3 linked regions of the Homo sapiens genome follow. The protein of the gene in region 3 purifies or fractionates together with the protein of the main gene of each other region. This does not show direct contact. Each region holds a gene or a part of one and is shown on either strand. Other genes may lie near its edges.

Region 1 (7,000 bases), on a different chromosome or scaffold from region 3:
TTACATTTCTGTCCTTGATTGTGAATTCCACATCATCGCCAGGCTGTAAGGTTTCTAAGTCACCCTTAAATTCACTATAGTGAAAGAATATCTCTTTTACAACATCACCTCTTTCAATAAAGCCAAATGCCTCCTGAAGCAAAATAAAAAACCAAGAACATTATTACCACTCTGTACAAATTTATGATTACAACTTAAAACCAGTAATTTTTGTAAAATTATACTGTAGTCACAATAATATAATTTGGTACAACCTAATATTATCAATTAAACAGCCAATTTTAAAGAAGATAATGTATTAGCAACCAAGGAATTTTAAGAGACTACTTTTGAGGTTAACAGTGAAATATTTTAAAAGGGTAAGATAAAAAAGAAAAAAAAAAACAAAGGCTGGAGTTTGAAGTACAACATTTCAAGTGGCCAAAGAAAACTCAAGTTTCTCAAATTTAACACTTACCTTCATGGCACAAACTACTCCCTGACAGCGGGCTTGTTTCTTTTTCAACAGCATAATGTTGCGAGCACTTACAGCACCAGTACTAGAAAAAAAATAATTGCAGGGAGGAGGAATGAAACAGGGATTAAAAATGTATTGGCCTGCTTAGATATGAGTCTAAAGAAACTAGTTTCCTGGGGCTTTAAGAATTCTATCATCACTAAGAATAAATACAGGGTTTATGACATTTGATTATTTTCATATGGCTTTATATGCAAAGGACTTTAACTCCTTAGCCTTCTACGTTTGGCAAATATATATATAGGTCATCTTTCTCTGGGACTGTTGTTGGAAGATTTGCTTTTTTACAAACTTACACATGGGTGCGTGATGTTCTACTCTGTTTTTCTATTTCAACAAAATAACTGAAATAAAGCCACAAAGCGAATGCTACCAAAGGTGGGGAATACTAAAGTCTTATAAAGGTTATTCATTAAACAAACATTTGTGTAGGTATAATCTGCGGCAAAGTAAGGTACTGGTGATACAGAGATAAATAGGAGATGGTCTCTATTTTCAGTGAGTGCTAAATTTAGTAGCTATCTCATTAATTATTTCTGAGTAAACAGCCATAAAAGTTGAGTAAATGAAGTGACTTTAAGAGAACTTGCTATGCTTTTAAAAGTAATGATATCCACCTCCATTGGAGAATGGAAACAAGTTAGAGACACCACATGTTGCTTTTATGCCTTCATATTTGTGTAGCAGCGATGTAAATTCAATTTTGTTTTTAAGATAACATAGACTGTATAAGACATAATGGTACTGTTAGTCTAAATGTTTTAAGAAAAGACCTATACACCAAGCAATTACTTCCCTTAATTTTTCACAGACAAATAACCCAAAATGTGCTTTTTATTTAAAAAAATGTTACAGACTAACAAAGACACCAGAAAAATTCTACCTGTTTTTGTAACTTACTGCAGTGAAAACGCTTTAGAGTCAGATGGGAATTTAAATGCCTGCTATTTAAAAGCAGTATGAACATCGACAAGTAACTTTGTGAGAACTTATACGTCATTTTACAGATGAAGAAACTTACCAGGTAAGGCTGTTCTGAGATTAACAACTATATAAATTGAGGCCTTCAGACTGTAACTAATAATAACCACACCTACAACACAATCTGATTCCTTCAAGGCTTGCCAAGAAAGAGATAAGGTTCAAGGCAGATAATCCCAGACATGCTCTTAGGACTTTTCCCTCCACATGCTACTGGAAGGTACATTACTAGCACTTTCTCCAACTTTCTATTTTAATTTCCTTCTCCTCTTGCATCTCTCATCTCTCCTATGCCAAGATAAAAATAATATTCTCCCTGGGCTTTCTTAACTACATTTTCCTTAACTGTGTATGCTGATGAATTCTACAGCTCTATATACTTCCCCTATAGGCAGGAAATAGACCTTAGACTTAATAGGTCTAAGTCTCAGACCTATACACGCAACTGTAGATTTGATATCTCTACCCAGATATATCACAAACATCTCACACTCAAAAATTGCCAAGATAAGTATGATTCTTTTCCCACCTTGAACATTCTCCTTATGTCTCCTTAGCCCAGTTTATGGTACCATCATCTGCCCAGTAGGCCAGGCCAGAAAAACAGTATTTGGGACTCCCTTTAATTCCAACCCCACCTTTATCAAATCAATTAAGATTGATGATTCTATCTTCTCAATATGACTTGACTCCTCCACCCCATCCTCTTAGTCTATCCATATCAGGCGGTCATCTTTCACGTTAACTCTCACATCACTGCCTCTGGTCAACAGCATCCCCACCTTTCAAAAGTCTACCACTTCCACCACCTCCAAAGATCTAAACCAATCACACTTCCTTGTTTTAAACAACGCAGATTCCTACATAGAAGAATGCTCAAACTTTACCTTCTGGTCAGTTCGACCAAACTTTTGGCCATTTTCCCCCAACATGTCATGATACTTCTAATCATAATGCTTTTTTCTCACCTCTCTATAGTGACTATACCCCTCCCTCAAAACTTACCTCAAAGCACTATTTTTTGAAAAACCTTCACTGATCTCTAGAACAAGTCCTTAAAATGCCTAACAATGTTTTAATTATCATCTTCCTCTGAGACCCTGCATCATGGCTGTAATACAATATTCATAGACCTCAAAGCATTAGTTGATGAATTGAAAGTTCATGAAAACTATCCAGACTTACAAGTTAGGTTTTTAACTCTATTCAAATTTCTTAATGGAGGGGGGAAAAAAAAACCGCTTAGGTGAGAAAATTTAAAAAAAAAGAACTTACTGTTTATTGTTATCAATTACAAAGTTTATTTTATCTCCAGTTTCCAGCTGAACGTTCCCTTCGACATCTTCAGGGGTGTAAGTCAGATAAAACACTTCCTGTGAATTAATAAATCATTATTACTATTTTGGCAGGATGCATATTCACTGTATACTGTGATTTACTTACTTAAAAACCTCTTATACTGGCATTTTAAGCCAAATTTCTTAAAATTAAATGCTTTATGACAAGTCACTTTATTCATATAAACACACACTTCCCCTCCATGGTGCTGATGACTTCTGCGAGTCCACAGCTGAGCAGCAATCCAACTTCAAAAAGCTTACACACGTGGAAGCATTTGCCCAGAGACTATAGTTACATTTCAAAAAAACAATTTTATATAAGGCATTCCAAACAAAAAAAGCTGGTGTTAGTGCTTAAAAGAAACCAGAAAAAGATCCCCCCCACAACCCCCAAAAAAGTGATTAAAAGGAACATTTTACCTTAATGTTCTAACTAAGGTCATACTTGGGCAAACTAAGACACTTGGAAGTCCTATGGAATTTTTCTTTTTAAATTTTTTGATTATGCTGCATTTGAAGCCTCTTAGAAACCAAATTTAAAACTGATTTTAACAATTGCAGCTTACGTTTTCTATTTTGAATTTTAAAGTACGCTTATAGATCACATGGTGGATCAGGCAAAGGTTTAAGAAAAATACACAAGTTTACCCCATTACGTTCGTAGCATACACTCCCTGTTGGACTCTGACCCGGGGCAGCTGGAGATTTACTCTCTAAGTTGTGAGGAACAGCGCACACAACCTACCAGTCAAAAAAAAAAAAATTTCCATTGCTAATCATTTCAGGAGCAGCACTGTGCAATATAAACTGAATTTTAATATCCTCTATACTATATACAGGGATGCATTTTAATATGATCCACAAGAGGATGTCATGCTGCCAAGTTTCAAACTTACAGTATGTAAATTGACTGTAAGCATTGACTCAGGGTTATATGTAAAAACCCAATTGAGTCTTGACCATATTTTTATTTCAGGTCAAGAAATGCCAGTGCTTTTGATTAATTTTAAAATAGTAATCTTTATATACTATAGCTCTCTTTCGTGCAAACTGAGGAGATGGGGAGAATCTTCCTTTTCTAATGTGAAAGATATGCAAATGCAGGGCCCTAAAAAAACACAAAGCATCAAAGTCACTAACTTGTCCATTCATTCGTTCTTCAGGGAGGATTTCTTGTTTTATCTTCACCAGTTTAACAGCAATGGGTTTCCCAGTCCGTCGGTCCGATGATACTTCAAATTCAACATCATCTAAAAATAAATAATGTGTTATGTTTGTTGAACTGATTTTTGCGAAACGATATATTGCTTCCAAGCTATACTTAACATAGCATTTGAATTGCCTTAGACCAGTGGTTTTCAAAGTGTGGTCCCTGGACCAGCAGCATTAACATCACCTGGGAGCTTAAAAGAAATACTGGGCCTAACTCTAGTCCTAGCCAAAGACAAACTCTGGGGATCAAGTATAGCAATCTGTGTTTTAACAAGCCTTCCACTAATTCTGATACACACAAATGTTTCAGAACCACCATCTTATGCTAAGATAGCCATGTCTTAATCTTAGTTTTTATGGCATTTACACATACTACAAATGAGATGACTTAACAATCATAACCTTTGGCGAGTTTTTTTTTTAAACTCCTCTGTACCTCAGTTTTCTCTTATGTAAAAGGAGAATAATTCCTAACAGGACTGCCATGAGGATTAACCAAAACAATGTTCCTATAGCATGCATCTTGTTAGCTATTATACTGACTCTTTTCTCAAACGTTTTTTAAAAATGCACAGAGGCCTCATAATTTCAGTCCTTTAGTAAGCCAAACACTTCACATGTAAAAACTTTTTTTTTTTTTTTTTTTTTTTTTTTTTGAGACAGAGTCTCCCTGTCACCCAAGCTGGAGTGCAGCGGCACGATCTCAGCTCACTGCAACCTCTACCTTGCGGGCTCAAGCGATCCTCCCACCTCAGTCTACTTAGTAGCTGGGACTACAGGCACATGTCACGTTCCTCAGCTAATTTTTGCATTTTTTGTAGAGATGGGGTTTTGCCATGTTGCCCAGGCTGCAAGCTGGTCTTGAATTCCTGAGCTCAAGCAATCCACTTGCCCTGGCCTCCCAAAATGCTGGGAATACAGGCATGAGCCACCATGCCAGGCCTGTGAAATAATTTGTATGGTGTCAGCCACAATGAATTTCCATATAATCTAAGAGGTGACTTTTTTTTTTTTTGAGACGGGGTCTCGCTCTGTCGCCCAGGCTGGAGTGCAGTGGTGGCATCTTGGCTTACTGCAAGCTCCGCCTCCCAGGTTCACACCATTCTCCTGCTTCAGCCTCCCGAGTAGCTGGGACTACAGGTGCCTGCCACCACGCCCAGCTAATTTTTTGTATTTTTAGTAGAGACGGGGTTTCACCGTGTTAGCCAGGATGGTCTCTATCTCCTGACCTCGTGATCTGCCCGCCTCGGCCTCCCAAAGTGCTGGGATTACAGGCGTAAGCCACCGCGCCCAGCTTCTAAGAGGTGACACTCTAAGGATTACTTTTTTCAGGTACTACCCAAAATAGTACCTGACAGAATAATCATAAGTAACATTACAAAAGTTCAATATTCGTACTGGCTTAAAATCTTACGGGTAAACAGTCATCATTATGGGGAAAAACAATGAAATCTTCCAAGCATTTATTGTAAATATATGCAAATATAATCTTTCAAGGATTCTGCTGGTTTATACAGATATTCTTCACTAAACAGTACAACTAAAAGTCCAAAATGTTTTAATTTACATAAAACTTTTTGAAAAACACTCATGAACAAATTGATATGCAAGACAAATTTTGTGATTACATTTTTACAAAGGAGAACTGACAGATTACCTCCTACTTTTAAGTCTTGCAGGTTGCCATTATACTGTGAACAGTGGAAGAAAAGTCTAGCTTGACGTTCTGAACACTGAATAAATCCGTAAGAGGTTAACAGTTTTTCAATAACCCCAGTTTCACGCAGTGCTGCTGAAGTACCATTAGGGTACCCATTATGTCCATTGTTGTGGAGAAGGTTTGGATCAAAGCTCATCTGTTTTAAAAAGAAAAAGAATATATACATATCTGTACATTATCTCCATAGCATATTAAGTCTGGTTAATAAGTCACTAAATCTTCCATATAAAAACGCAAAAAAAAGTAAAATGAAGGGAAGATTATAGACTTTATTACTGCAGCATTAATTTAGCTAATAAAACATTTCAGAGGAAACAACTTATTATATTGGGGAATTGCCCCAAATTATGGTAGAATTTCCACTTATCAGACAAAAATAGAATTTCTGGGGTTTAATATTAAGGTATAGCAACTACATTAGCAAATGCTGCCTTTACATGAAGTGAAAATTACTAAAACAACAATTTCAGAACAAAGGTAATTAATATTAAGAGACAGCGACCACAAACTACCAAAGACTCTTAAGAGATTTGGTAACGCTATTTTGAAACTTCAGCCAATACCTTAATACTGTTTAGTAAGTCATGCATTTGGAAGGCATATTTCAAGTTAGTAGAGATTAACACAATAAAATGAACTTTCTATGCAATACTTAAACTAGAAAATTTCAGAGTAATTCATGCTTAGGTCCTTTAATGAAAGACTATCCAAAATAGTGCAGTAGAAAACTTCTGAAACAACAAAACTCCAAGACAGCAAAAGCATTTCCATTTTAAAAATGCTGAATCATTTCACAGGTACATTTAAAGAAATCTTTACCTAAAAGAAACCCTTCACTTTTTACATACTGATGAAATCTGTAACTATCACTTCGTTCCCATTCTTTAGTGAAATAGGAGCTATTTAAAAGCAATATAATGGAATCTGCCTAGGTCATAAAATACTATCACATTGGATGTTCCATTTCCCTTCTTTGAGTAAAACAACAAAAACTATAAGTGAAGCACAAAACAGGACGAAATCCTTAGCAAAGCCTAGGTCTATAATTTACCACAGTAATGACATTTCTAAATCATTACAATTATGTTTTAGACCCTTTCACTGAAAATCTGATTTATAAGTATTTCCATTTAAGTGGAATGTTGGGCATTATTAATAAAAAGGATATATTTTCACTAGGAAAAAAGAGTAACAAATTCTAGAAAGATAAACCAAAGTTTGAGTCAACGA
Region 2 (6,813 bases), on a different chromosome or scaffold from region 3:
GAACCTACTCTGTGCTAGGCAACATACTAGTTGCCGGGGAATCAACAGTTAACAGTACAAAGTCTTTGCCCTCATGGTACTTTCATTCTTGGATAAGAATATATACAGTAAACAAAAATAAGTAATGACAGGTAATAAAAAGTATCATAAAAAAATCAAACAAGGAAAAAAGGAGTCATTTTAAATGAGGTGATCATGAAACCTCCTCAAAGGAGGTACTTTGAGCAGAGACCTACGTGAATGGCATAGAGTAGAGCTGGCTATATGACCCCTGGGGAAGCGTTTTCACCAAGAGGAAACAGCAAATGGAAAGGCCATAAGATGGCAGTGTTCTTGGTGTATTTGAGGAAGAAAAAGAAGGCCCACATGACAGAATTCAGGGGAAAGTAAAGGAGGTCAGAGATCTACCTCCAGGGACTAGATCACAAAAGACCTTGAGAGTCATGGTAAAAACTTTGCAATGTAACTACTGGAGGAGGAGAAAACAAAACTTTGTGCTCTTAACTACAAGAAAAAAAAATTGATTTAAAAAAAAAAAAAAAAAAAGGACTAGGAGAAAACATGCCAAAACTGTTAATAGCAGTTTCTCTCTAGGTAGTAAGATTACAGATTTTGTTTTCTGGTACGTCCTAATTTTTCTGAATTTTCCCTATTTCTAAAAATGAATATGTATTACTTTGATACACACACAGAGAATAATGTAATTTTCATAATCCAAAGATCTGAAATTAAAAATATGAATTTGCCGGGCATGGTGGCTCACACTTGTGATCCCAGCATGTTGGGAGGCTGAGGCAGGTGGATTACCTGAGGTCAGGAGTTTGAGACCAGCCTGGCCGACATGGCGAAACACCGTCTCTACTAAAAATACAAAAAAATTAGCCGGGCGTGTGGTGTGCACACTTGTAATCCCAGCTACTCGGGAGGCTGAGGCAGGAGAATCACTTGAACCTGGGAGGCAGAGGTTGCAGTGAGCCAAGATTGTGCCACTGACTCCAGCCTGGGCAACAGAGTGAGACTCGGTCTCAAAAAAAAATGAGTTGATGAAACTTTTCCAGGATTTCAGCATTTTATCTGCTGCCAAATTGTCAGAAGCCAAAATCTCAAATACATCTTAGTCTACAATTAGACTAACTCAGGTTCTTGGGAAGTAGGAGGATTTCCAATGTGCAACATCACCTAGGATTTGGTAGACATAAGATGGACTCAAAAAGCTTCCCAGGTGATGAACATGGATATCTGGGTTAAAAACCACTGTTGAAGATTCATCATCAGATATACCAATGCCTGAGAACTTGAAATACAGTCTGCCATAACAACTAAACTACCAAGTAAGGCTATGAGAATCACATCTAATTCATCTTTGAATCCCCAATGCCTGGCACACTGTTTATACGTAATACGGACTCAACAAACCTTTGTTGGAGAAATGATCCCCAAACTCAAATTTCCTGCTAATTTGGGTAAGGCAATCTTAGAAACACTCTAAGACAACCTGGAAGATGGGAGATCAATATGATACATTTACAGAGCTTTAAGAACCACCTGCATACCGGCTGTGGTGGCTCATGCCTGTAATCCCAGTACTTTGGGAGGCAAAGGTGGGAGGATTGCTTGAACCCAGGAGTTCAAGGCTGGTCTGTGCAACACTGGAGACCCCATCTCTACAAAAAATACAAGAACTAGCCAGGTGTGGTGGCACACACCTGTAGTCCCAAATACTTAGGAAGATGGGTGGGAGGATCACTGGAGCCCAGAAGTTCAAGGTTGCAGTGAGCAATGATCCGCCACTGCACTCCAGCCTAGGTGACAAAGCGACACCGTCTCAAAAAAAAAAAACAAACTCTGCAGTTACCAACAATAGCCAGAGCACTACATTACCATGAATCAAGTCAAATGTTAAGTCTCACATTAATCTAGTCAGTAAGTAAAAGAAGAATCCCTGTCTGTATTACCAAGTAGTGACAAAATTGACATATATGGTAGCTTTATTCTATTTAAATAAGGTACGCATAGAAAATTCCAAATTTCGCCACCACCACCACTTAACTCAATCATTCATCAAATTCACTTCCAGCTCTGAGGAGCTACTGGTATTTCATCTGACCTGTGGTAAAGTCCACAAAACACATCCTCCTCTGGTCCTCTCAGCTAACTCACCTGGGTACTTAAGTTTTCAAGAACAAGAGAGTCCAAAGCTATGGTGGAGAACACACAGGTTTTCCCGGTGCCAGATTTAGCTTGAACAATTAAATCTGCGAAGGAAAAAAACAATTATCACTAGCCAGTACTCACTGAAGCAACTTAGGGGCTAACATGGAATCAGAGAACTAGAAGGGTCTCCTGAGATTCCCCTAGTTGGCACCTTCATTTTTAGTTGATTCTCAAAAACGTATGAGAACACGCCTAGTCCCTGAACGTTTACCGTTTATCTTCTCAAACTTAGAACCATTTGTCAGTGCTTAAAAAAAGGTCTTAACTATCCTCAAGTTCAATAGTGCACGTTAGTTTTACAAATAAGTTAACTGAGCGTAGCGCCTAGCCCCCGGCAGGGCCCTGCTCCGGGGGCCGACCGAGGGCTCTTCCTGAGCTGCGGCGCGGGCCTGGCCGCCGCCGCCCGTCGGTCCCCCTTCTCCCACCCCACCCCCCGACCTATCCCGGGCCCCCGCTCTCACCGAGCCCGCAGCGCCCCAACGGGATGGCCTTGAGCTGCACCGGCGAGGGCCTCTCGAAGCCGGCCGCCCGCAGCCCCTCCAGCACCGGCCGCGAAAGCAGCAGTGACTCGAAGTCGGCCGGCTCCGCCAACAGCACATCCCCCGTGCGGGTCCGCGGGCTGCTGAGATCCTGAGCGGTCCGCAGGATCCTCACAGGCCCGGGTGTTGGCTCTGGGGCCGGGACCTGCACGGCCACATGCTCAGCCGGCATAGCAGTCGCCACTGCTGCTAAGGCTCCCGAGGCTTCAAATGCCGCCGCCATGGTAGCCGCGCCGTCAGATCTCGCGGTGCTTAAGGGGAGGCGGGGATCTTGGGAGCGAGAAGAAGAAAAACTTTATTGGCAGTTTTCCCGCGAAGACACTAACACGCCCGGCCTGGAAGTGGAAGAAAGGGACGGGAGTCGGAGGCTGAGAGACTGCCCAGACACACAAAAAATGTGGCCTGAGGAAAGCCCCAAGAGGGAGGAGAGGAAAGATGAGGCAACTGGTGAGTCGCTGCCTGTGGCCTGCAGAGGGCGCCGCGGGCCTGCGGTGGGGGCACCGCCCCGCCTCTCGGCCCTCTTCTGGGCGGAGCCGCCCAGCCGTGCCCCCGGCGCCACCGCCCTCTCGCCGTTCTTTGTGATGCGCCCGGTGCGTCACGCCCCCGTCTCGTGCTTCCGTTTTCCGTTCCGCTGGCCTGTCTCGCTTCGCGGCCACCTCTTCCCCAACGCTACCCGCTCCGTACCCTGACTCGCTGCTCCTCTGTGCTGGCAGAGAGCGCGCAGAACGTAGCTGGACCCAAGGGTTTATTTACCACATTGGCTGGTGTGTCCATCTGCTGTGCAACCACATTTATCTCCGGTGAGATAAACCCCATTTATCTCCTAGCAAGTCCCTGGCGCACAGTGAGCTCTGATAAAAGTACGTTGAATTGGAACCTGGAACTGGACTAACAGCTCCCAAGTTCGTATCTCCGCCTCAGATCTCCTTTTAAACTCTAGACGTGTGCATCCATCTGCCTCCATGCATCCGCCTCCATGCATCCGCCTCCGCATCCGCCTCCATGCATCCGCCTCCGCAGCACCTCCCTTGGGATGCCTAATAGACTCTCAAATGTTACATGCCTTCTGTATTGCTCCTTCCCCCATCATTTCATGCGTAGGCAGCTAGCAGTCTCTGCCACTTTTCCTTGCTGTGGTCTTCTGCTCAAATATCAGCTTTTCAAAGAGGTCTTGAACACCCTAAGACAGCTCTGTCATCCTCTCTGCTCCCTGGCCTTTCCCAGCACTCTCTTGTTTTGCTTTATTTTTTCTTTATGATACTTATACCTACCTGAAATTATATGTCTTCTGCCTGTCTCCCACACTCTATGAGGACAAGAACCTATTCTGTCTTGTTCTCCTCTGCATCCCTAGTGGGAAAAACAATCTGACACATAGGAAATGTTCAATATTTATCAAATGATTGAGCTCCTATAACAAACTCTTAGTCATCATGCCAAATTTAAATATTTCTGGACCTCAGCCATATTCATAATTCCAAATTTAGTTGTGTGGGGTGGCTCGCACCTGTGATTCCAGCTTCTTGGGAGGCTGAGGCGGGAGGATTGCTTGAGGCCAGGAGTTGCCAGCCTGGGCAACATGCAGAAACCCTGTCTCAAATTCTTAAAAAGTAAACAAATTTTTAAAAATACAAAGAATACCAAACTTAAATATATTCTGCAACCAAGCCCAACTTTGTCCATAGATTATAATGCTGGTCATTGTCCCTACCCCCTTGACACACACACAGTGATGGTCTAGATTCCATATGATATAGGAGGGGCTTTGACATGGTAATCCCATTGGAAGGTGGTCCTGAAGGTTTATTTTGCCTGGAAATGTACAAAACATTGAGAAAATGTCAACTATCCGTTTGAAGGAATGGAGACTGATGGTGGAGATGGCACTAAAGGTCCCAGCCTTCCTCTTAGTGCCCTCACCTCTTTTATCTGCCTAATCCCCAGACCACAAACCTGGGAATTATTCTTGACTCCTTTGCCACTTTCTAACAATTTACCAAGCACAAGTAATTTTGCCTCCAAATATTTCACCCATTCTTCTTCAGTCTCCGTAGAATCTGCCCTATATTTTAGATCCCTTTATCATCCTAACTCGCAAAAACCTCCTGAATGGTTTCTCTGGCCAGAGTTTCTTCTCTATCCCAGCCATGTACCCCACAGGTGCTGGAGTGATCTTTCTTAAGTGGATATCTTAAGCTGTTTGGGTCCAGCTCCAGATCCTGCTCCTTTTGATCCTGCTCCTTTTGATACCCTTTTTTATTCCCCACCCCAGGGTCCCACATCACACTATAAATAATTCCAGTCTGGCTCTTATGTTGTATTTGCTTGGTTACTTGTATGTGCCTCACATTAAATAAACTGTGAGCTTCTCAAGGACAGTAATTTTGTCATCCTAGGCCCTCCAGGCCAGCACCAAGCACCTGGTAGACCCAATAAACATTGAATGGCTGACACCTTCTTGCTCAAAAATCTCTTCTGGGTCTCCATGCACATAGCAGCGGTTCTGTAGAACTCACACCAATCACTGCTGAAGAACCACAGGATTATCCCAAGAAAAGCAAAAAGACTACATTTCCAGAAAACATTTATAGTTTTATAGGCATTCTGTTACTGCATTTGTTGTTTTTGATGTTTTACAGACACAAATATTGCAGTAATGTTATTGGGAACCATGGTGAATAACACAAATTTTTTTTCTCACTAGTCAAAAGTTATAACAGTGTTGTTGACCATAATTTTTAGTGCTATAAAGATCTCTTGCACAAAAGCAAGAAATCATTTAATAACTAGGTAAGGTGTGAGCATAACACATACAGAAATGGGCTTGATTGTGTCTGTCTCCCAGCCTCCCCCGGGATAAATAACAGTGGGATCCCTGTCTCTTCTCTGGCAGAGCAGCCCATCTACCTCCTCCAACCAGACCCAACTAGCCCAGATGCTTAATTCTCCATGACTTGTAACACCTCAATACCTTTGTATTTGCTGTTCCATCTACCTGGAGAGCCTTTCCAGGGAGCTAGAGGAGGGAGAGATTCCTATGAACTGAAAAGGTGAGAGTGACACTTAGACTCAGAATGGGTGTTAAGATTCAAATGATCTCATCCAATCATTTTGCACTGGAGGCTTCTGAACCCAGAGGAAAAGAAAACAGGCCAGGCGCGGTGGCTCACGCCTGTGATCCCAGCACTTTGGGAGGCCGAGGTGGGCGGATCACAAGGTCAGGAGATCAAGACCATCCTGGCTAACATGGTGAAACCCTGTCTCTACTAGAAAAAAAATACAAAAAGTTAGCCGGGCGTGGTGGTGGGCACCTGTAGTCCCAGCTACTCGGTAGGCTGAGGTAGGAGAATGGCGTGAACCCGGGAAGCAGAGCTTGCAGTGAGCCGAGATCACACCACTGCACTCTAGCCTGGGCAACAGAGCGAGACTCCGTCTCAAAAGAAAAAAAAAAAAGAAAAAGAAAACAGTATAAAGGAAGGCATACTGTAAGGTGGCCCACCCTGGGTGTGAGGATCGGTGGGGGAATGTGGAAAGAAGGGAAGAAAACTTAAGATTTTAAAGCCACTTTTTCTCATTTGACCCTCAAAGCAACACAAGGTAGGCAATATTATTATTTGCATTCAATCTACAAAACATCTCTAATCATTCAACAAAAATTTTCTGAACACCTAGTATAAACCAGCCAAGTGCTAGAGATACAAAAATGGAACAAAGTAAACAGAGCCTCTGCACTTGGGGAGACAGATGCACACAAACAGGTATCCTCATTTCCTGTATAAAGTGCAGGGTGCTACTGAAGTCAAGGAGGTAACCAGATGTGGGGAGCCAAGAAAGACTTAGCCATCAAGATTAGGTTTGATTGAAAGTAAGGCCCCAAAATAGGAGCTTACCTCCCCAAGATAGAAGTTCATTTTGCCCTTGTAGAGAATTCTGGAAGCAGGACTGATAAACAGCCCTGATCCACAAAGATCCCAATCACCCAGGCTTCTGCCTTGGTCCCCAAACAGTTGCTGTAGTTCCAGTCATCACGTTTGCATTGCAGCCAGCAGGAAGGAGGAAG
Region 3 (7,114 bases):
TATATATATGGTGAGGGAAATTATTAAAATATTATAAAATAAACATGTAGACTGGGGAAGACACCTATAACTTCTGTAAAATGAGAGAATGCATAAAGAATTTCACCACCAAAATGTTAAAAACATATATACCATAAAACCACCTTAACAAAATTTAAAAGCAAATGATAAATTAGAATTCAATAAAGAACCTTTAAAAACCAGTAAGAAAAACATGAATAACACAACAGATAAATGGACAAAAGGTAGACAGGCAATTATTCCATAAAAAAGGGAATATATTAAAATGGTATTCAATAGCATTTTAATCTCATGAATATTCACATTAATACAACAGAATTATTTTCTTAAATTGACAAAGAGAAAGTTAGTTATCAGTGCTCACTAGAACATGTTGGGTATAGATACATACATATATACCCATACTTTGTTGGAAGACACTTTGGTAGTATCTATCAATGGCTTCCAACAATTCATTTTTTTTTTTTCTTTTTGAGAAGGAGTTTTGCTCTTGTCCCCCAGGCTGGTATGCAATCTCGGCTCACTGCAACCTCTACCTCCCGGGTTCAAGCGATTCTCCTGCCTCACCCTCCTGAGTACCTGGGAATTACAGGCGCCTGCCACCATGCCCAGCTAATTTTTTTGTACTTTTAGTAGAGATGGGGTTTCACCATGTTGGCCAGGCTGGTATTGAACTCCTGACCTCAGGTGATCCACTCACCTTGGCCTCCCAAAGCACTGGGATTACAGGCGTGAGCCACTGCGCCCGGCCACCTTCCAACAATTCCACTCCTCTTTGTCCCACCAATTCTACTTTTGCTTAGTTATCTTAAGGAAATCATTGTGAAAATATTTGCAACTGTAAGGATGTTTAGCATAATACTGCTTTTCATATTTAAAATCTGTAAGTAGCCCAAACGGGCCAAAACAGGAAACTAGTTAATTCACTTATGATATAACCACAGGATGGAAAACCAGAAAGTCATTACAAACAGTTCATAGACTATTTAGTGAAATGAAAAAACTGTAACTGCAGATTTTTTAAAATTCTTTCGAATAGCTAATATATTTACATGGTTCAAAAATCTAAGCAATATGTGCACACAACTGAGAATTCTCACCATCACCAACTTCTATAAATAACCAATCTTTCTTACCAAAAAATAGTAACACTGTTCTGCACTGTTTTAAAACTTAATGATAAAAATTTGCCATAATAAATTTTCAGTTTGGAAGAAGGTTATACAATAGCAACATAGCAAATAAACTTATTTTTTAAAAACTGTGCAGAAAAAAAGACTGAAAGTTTATAAACCAAAAACTGATGAATTACGTTTTAATTTTCTTCTTTGTTGACTATTTTTTTTTTTTTGAAACTGAGTTTCACTCTTATTGCCCAGGCTGGAGTGCAGTGGCGCAATCTCGGCTCACTGCAACCTCCACCTCCCGGGTTCAAGCGATTCTCCTGCCTCAGCCTCCCAAGTAGCTGGGATTACAAGCGCCTGCCACCATGCCTGGCTAATTTTTCTATTTTTAATAGAGACGGGGTTTTGCCATGTTGGCCAGGCTGGTCTCGAACTCCTGACCTCAAGTGATCCACCCGCCTCAGTCTCCCAAAGTGCTAGGATTACAGGTATGAGCCACCGTGCCCGGCCATGACTATCTTTATTTTCCAAATTTGAGTACTGAGCATGAAATTCTTTAATCAGTTATTTAAATTAAAAGAAAATAAAACTAGAAGCTGATGTTTAAATTATGCTTACCTGCTTCAGGTTTGTTCAAGTCATATATGCGTAACAGTTTATCCTGTCCCCCGGTTAACAAATAATTACTATCCTGAAAACACAAAGTAAAATGTGAATAGATTAACCATTTTAATAGTTATTTCTCTTTCAAATTTCAACACCAAATAAAATCAAAATCTAGCTCACAGACATCACAAAGAGATGCCAAGACATAACCAATTACTTCTGAGAAGATACTGTGGAACAGCTGACCTCTCATAACTGCCAAGACTTGTAAGCTTTCCACTTCAAAAGCGTTACACTACACTACATATACATGAACTCTCCCATTCTCCCCTGATCCTACTCCTCTCCCTTGTGAGAGGCCCTTTTCTGATTATCTCAAATTTATCTTCTCCCTTCTATTAGTAGTTGGGGAAGGCTACTTGAGCTTTTCAGATGTTTTTTACATGTTGAAGGACTGGTACTCGTTCCACAGTATCTTAAAAGCTTGACAGGATTAACTATGAAACAAATTCATAGAGCTTAATACACAATCAAATCAAATATGAACCAAGAAATAACAAATATTCCACACAAAACATATCAATCAAATATACACACCAATCAAGTATAAAAGCATTATCACACTATGTACCAGCAACTTAACTCGCTAAAATAAATTCCATTTTCTGATACCTGCGTGAAATCCACAGTCTTGACAATGTGTTTATGAGCCAGGGTCATCAATTCATCTCCTGAGACAGCATCCCACACTTTGCTAAAAGTAAAAAAGAGAAAATTAGTAGGATAAATATTACCCAATATATTAAAAGGATAAATACAATTATAATATTGATGAGTACCAAATAAGTTAGATATGTGAAATGTTACATAAATGTATTATAAATCTCCTTTATCTCTAATATCCCTCACAGACTTCATTTGATAAAATATTTAAATAAGCTTAAGGGAAAAGAAATTTCTCTGTAAAAACTTTATAACCAATCTAATTTTCTTTGACAGTGGAAAAGATATGAACAATTTAAGCAAGTAAGATTCATGAACCAACCCATCCTCCTTACTTTTATTTTAGCTGACAGCCATAATATCCCTTTAGCAAGCCTGTCATACATTTTAACCAATTTTTAGTTTCACCATGCCAATTTTTTCTCTATTCTCCACTCAGATGCACAATAAAAAATAAAAATAAATAAAAAAACCAGAAATCCTTAAAAATGTTACAAGGGAATGAAAAGCCTTGGTACAGGCTAAGTAAAATTTTAAATTAAGATAGTGGAGAGACAATGTCCACTTCATCTCTTCTTCAAAGCTGACTTAAAATTTCAAACTCTAGTACAGTTAACTTCCCCCAAACTATCAGCCTTTGATTATATAATGCTAACACTGACTATTTTAATCTTTACATTGTTTTTTCTGTCCCACCCCACCCCAAAATACAAGTTGGTTATAGGTATACATACATTTATATGTGTATGTATATTCTGGGCGGGTAATAGTTGAGCAATACTTTACAAAATTACTCTAAAAGGGTTCCCCCAAATAAAAAAGCTTAAGGAAGGGGGAAAAAAAAGTTGATTTTAGATCAGAACAGGTCAGTGAAAAATAAACAAGAAAACTTTGCAGACAGGGAAAAGAATTGCTAAGAGTGAAAAAGCTATGTTCCATAGAGATTTCCATTTTAATGCAACTGCTATTTATTTTCAGGAACACAGTGGGCAATAAAATGGTAGAGGGAAAAAAATCAGAGAAAAGCAAGATGTATCTTTTCTTTTGCTTACCCCAATACATAATAAAATATATTAAATATATATCATTCTATACTTAGTGCTAAGGCACAAATGGGAGACAAAAAATACCCCACAGTAGGTTCTTGCCATAGTAGAGCTTTAGCTGAGGAGAAAAACATGCATTAAATATCACATTTAAGAAATATAATTAAAAGACATATATATGGCTATAAAAACTCAGAAAAAAGCACCTAGATATTGTCCAGAAAATGTAAGTAACAGAGCTAGCCGTCGGAAGAAGCAAAGAGAAATATATCAGGGGAAAAAGAAGGGAAGGCTATTCTAGATAAGCATTAATAGCATGTGCAATGTGGTTAATGAATATGAAAGACCATCTAACAGGAATGCTCATGATACACTACCAAAGCTTGCAATATTTAATAATGTGGGTCATGTGAGTGGCTGAATAAATATGTTCTGAAAGAAATAATGTCAACTATAAGTAGCCTTGCTGCTAAACTCCCTAGTATTCATTTCTCTTTGCCCAGGAAACTTGCTCCTCTCTCTGTCATTCCAATGCAACTCTCTGGCCCCAATCTACTTTCCCAACCTCATTTTGTATTGTTTCTCTGAATCTAGCAACACTAGATTATAAACCACTCCTCAAATAACTTACGTATTTTCTTCCAGGCTCCTATGTTCTTGTTTATATTATTCTCTTAAGTCTGTATTTTACATTCTTAGCTATTAAAGTTCTACTCACCCTTAGGGCTCATTTCAAATGCTATCTTTTCTTTGAAACTATTTATCCTCAACTCCAATAATTAACCATTCCTTTCTGTTCTCCCACAGAACTCCACTTATTACGGTGCTTAAATTTGCTTTGTTTTTTGTTTACATATATCCTTAATCACAGTGAAATGCATTTCATGGTTGTGGTAAGGGTTCACAAGTATTAGAATGACAGAAAGCATCAAAAGTGAAGAAAACAACAAATGTATCTAAAATTACTATTCTAATTATTCACAAGTCTCCAAAGAAACCCGGGCAATGTCCTTTGATATGCTAATTTCAAGTTTATTAAATAATCTCCCATAAACTTAAAACCTCTCTCTCTTTTTTTTTTTGAGACAGGATCTTGGTATATTGCCCAAGCTATACTTGAACTCCTGGCCTCAAGATCCTTCCACCTCAGCCTCCTAAGTAGCTACAGGCTAACGCCAACATGGCAGCTCTAAAATCTTAAGATTCTGCTTAGACTGTGTCTATTCAAAGGTGAGAAGAGAGTTGGAGTGACCAAAGTAGTAATATTAACCAGAGAGGTAATGTGTCTGTAGTTTTTCCTCCTATTTAGAAACAGTACTAAAATAGAGGCATGACATTTTCTGACAGGGCATGTACTAACTCTGGCAGATTTCCATTATTCACAGTAAGAGCCCTAAAATGGATCTAATCTAAATGTTTCCTAATGTATTATTCAATCTCCAGGCAAGAAATTGACATATATTAGTTGGCCACAGGGCTCAAATCAAGACAGTAAAGCGCTATTAACAATACCCTTTCAGCAGCTAACCCTCCAACATTTTCTTCACATCCCACGAAGTACTTGTCATCTCCTTAAACTACTGTTACCTCTTATACCCCAGTTTCTTGCAAATAATAATGCTGCCTGATACTTTCCATATCCTCAGAATGAACTTACCGTAAGTCTCATAATAGGAGCTGCTTAACTTACTTATTTAAACCTTCAACAAAACAGGCCAGTTTAAGATTTTTAAAAAATTGCCCAAATACCTTAACATGTTGACCAAGTCATCTAGGAGATAATACCATTTTCGATTTATCAAGAACCTTATTAAAACTAAAATTAGATATTTCTATTGGCTTTACAAGAAAGAAAGAGTGATACATTGTGATTACCTATAAATTCCTGGACCCAATCCCAGATCTACTTAAGCCCTCTTGGGAGCACAGCACAGAATTGTCTTTACTTTGGCACTCTTCCCAAATAGATACAAAGAGATGGTGTTTTAGGGACACTGTACTCAACACTGGACTCAATTGCCCGAATTACTCCAAGATAACATTCTACACTAGTCCACAGACCTATTCTGCTAAATTTCTCCACAAGAAACGGGACCAAATTCCACTTCTAAATGACCACACCATAAATGAGTTTTCCAAGAAACGTAAGAATGGAGGGAAAAAAAAATTGTTTCTAAAAATGCTTTATACCAACCATGACTAATCAGGTAGGCTGTGGGGAGTAACTTCTTGGAGAGAATACACACACACACAAACACGCACATGAAAACACGCTCCTACACCCCACAGACAAGACATAGAGGAAATGAGGGATAAATCTCAACTAGCATTTATTGAGCACCTACTATGTGACAGAGATCATATTGGACTTCAGGGATATATGGTGGAGAAAGATCTCTCTGTTCCTCCAATAATCTCATGGGTCTTAGTCCCATTTTACAGATATGAAAGCCGACATTTAAGAAACATCCTGCCATGGTGGGCAGATCGCTTGAGCCCAAGAGTTCAAGACCAACCTGGACAACATGGTGAAGCCCATCTCTACAAAAAACACAAAGATTAGCCAAGCATGGTAGTACACGCCTGTGGTCACTATTCAGGAGGCTGAGGTTGGAGAACTGCTTGAGACTGGGAGATAGAGGCTGCAGTGAGCTATGATCACGCCACTGCACTCTAGCCTAGGCACCTAAGACCCTGTTTCAAAAAAAAAAAAAAATCCTATGATGATCAAACTGGAAATACACAGCATAGTTAGCACACGAATGCAAGCCCACCTAGTGCCAATGCTTGTTATTATTTTCCACTCTAACACAGCACCTAAAGCCTTAACTGAGGAGGGGGAAAAAAAAATCACAAAAATCTTCCTTCTTGACATTTAAATCTATTCAATCTTCCTTATATGAGGCCAAATAGTTTGAAGGCTTTAGCCATATTAGTTTCAAAATAATATGTGATTTTGATCAAGTGCGGGTGGTGATAGTTTACATGGTAGCTATCATCGTTACTTTACATATGTAACACTTTCATAGGTGTAATAGACTTCAGGCAATGTTGTAAGTATTCGAAACATATTAACTTATTTAATATTCAAAACCAACCTATGAATTAGGTACCATGACAGAAAAAAAAATGGTTAAATAAAGTGCATGAGGCCACCAATTCAAATTCAGGTCATCTGGCTCCAGCCTTCATGCTCTTAATACACCACTTGTAAACACAGACATTGAGACTTGAAATGTTAAGAAAGCATAAAAACAACACTGTTTCAATAAACAAGAGCATACAGTCACGTATCTGCCACCACAGTCAATCAGCCTTCATTTTTTCATTCTAAAATTGGTATGTTTAATGTACTTAAAATGAAGGAGGCAGCAGATTTACAATTGCTCCTTAGTGTGAGGTTGTTAAAAAAAAAAAAAAAAAAGGCCAGGCACGGTGGCTCACACCTGTAATCCCAGCACTTTGGGAGGCCAAGGCGGGCAGATCACTTGAGGTCAGGAGTTCGAGACCGGCCTGGCCAACATGGCGAAACCCCGTCTCTACTAAATATACAAAAATTAGCCAGGCGTGGTGGCGTGCACCTGTAGTCCCAGC

The links.
Region 1: the proteins of STRAP (region 3) and CSDE1 purify together in Homo sapiens (affinity purification with mass spectrometry; 4 studies listed by BioGRID and IntAct, with this or other methods). This does not show direct contact.
Region 2: the proteins of STRAP (region 3) and DDX20 purify together in Homo sapiens (affinity purification with mass spectrometry; 4 studies listed by BioGRID and IntAct, with this or other methods). This does not show direct contact.

The regions. Positions count from the first base shown.
Region 1 is NC_000001.11:114,733,985-114,740,984, forward strand, and holds part of CSDE1 (cold shock domain-containing protein E1), read right to left. Parts: intron 5,907-7,000; coding exon 5,708-5,906; intron 4,089-5,707; coding exon 3,979-4,088; intron 3,580-3,978; coding exon 3,487-3,579; intron 2,872-3,486; coding exon 2,774-2,871; intron 540-2,773; coding exon 458-539; intron 134-457; coding exon 5-133; intron 1-4. UniProt on the Homo sapiens protein: RNA-binding protein involved in translationally coupled mRNA turnover.
Region 2 is NC_000001.11:111,752,088-111,758,900, reverse strand, and holds the start of DDX20 (probable ATP-dependent RNA helicase DDX20), read right to left. Parts: upstream 3,001-6,813; 5' UTR 2,977-3,000; coding exon 2,676-2,976; intron 2,256-2,675; coding exon 2,161-2,255; intron 1-2,160.
Region 3 is NC_000012.12:15,885,319-15,892,432, reverse strand, and holds part of STRAP (serine-threonine kinase receptor-associated protein), read right to left. Parts: intron 2,506-7,114; coding exon 2,424-2,505; intron 1,837-2,423; coding exon 1,764-1,836; intron 1-1,763. UniProt on the Homo sapiens protein: The SMN complex catalyzes the assembly of small nuclear ribonucleoproteins (snRNPs), the building blocks of the spliceosome, and thereby plays an important role in the splicing of cellular pre-mRNAs.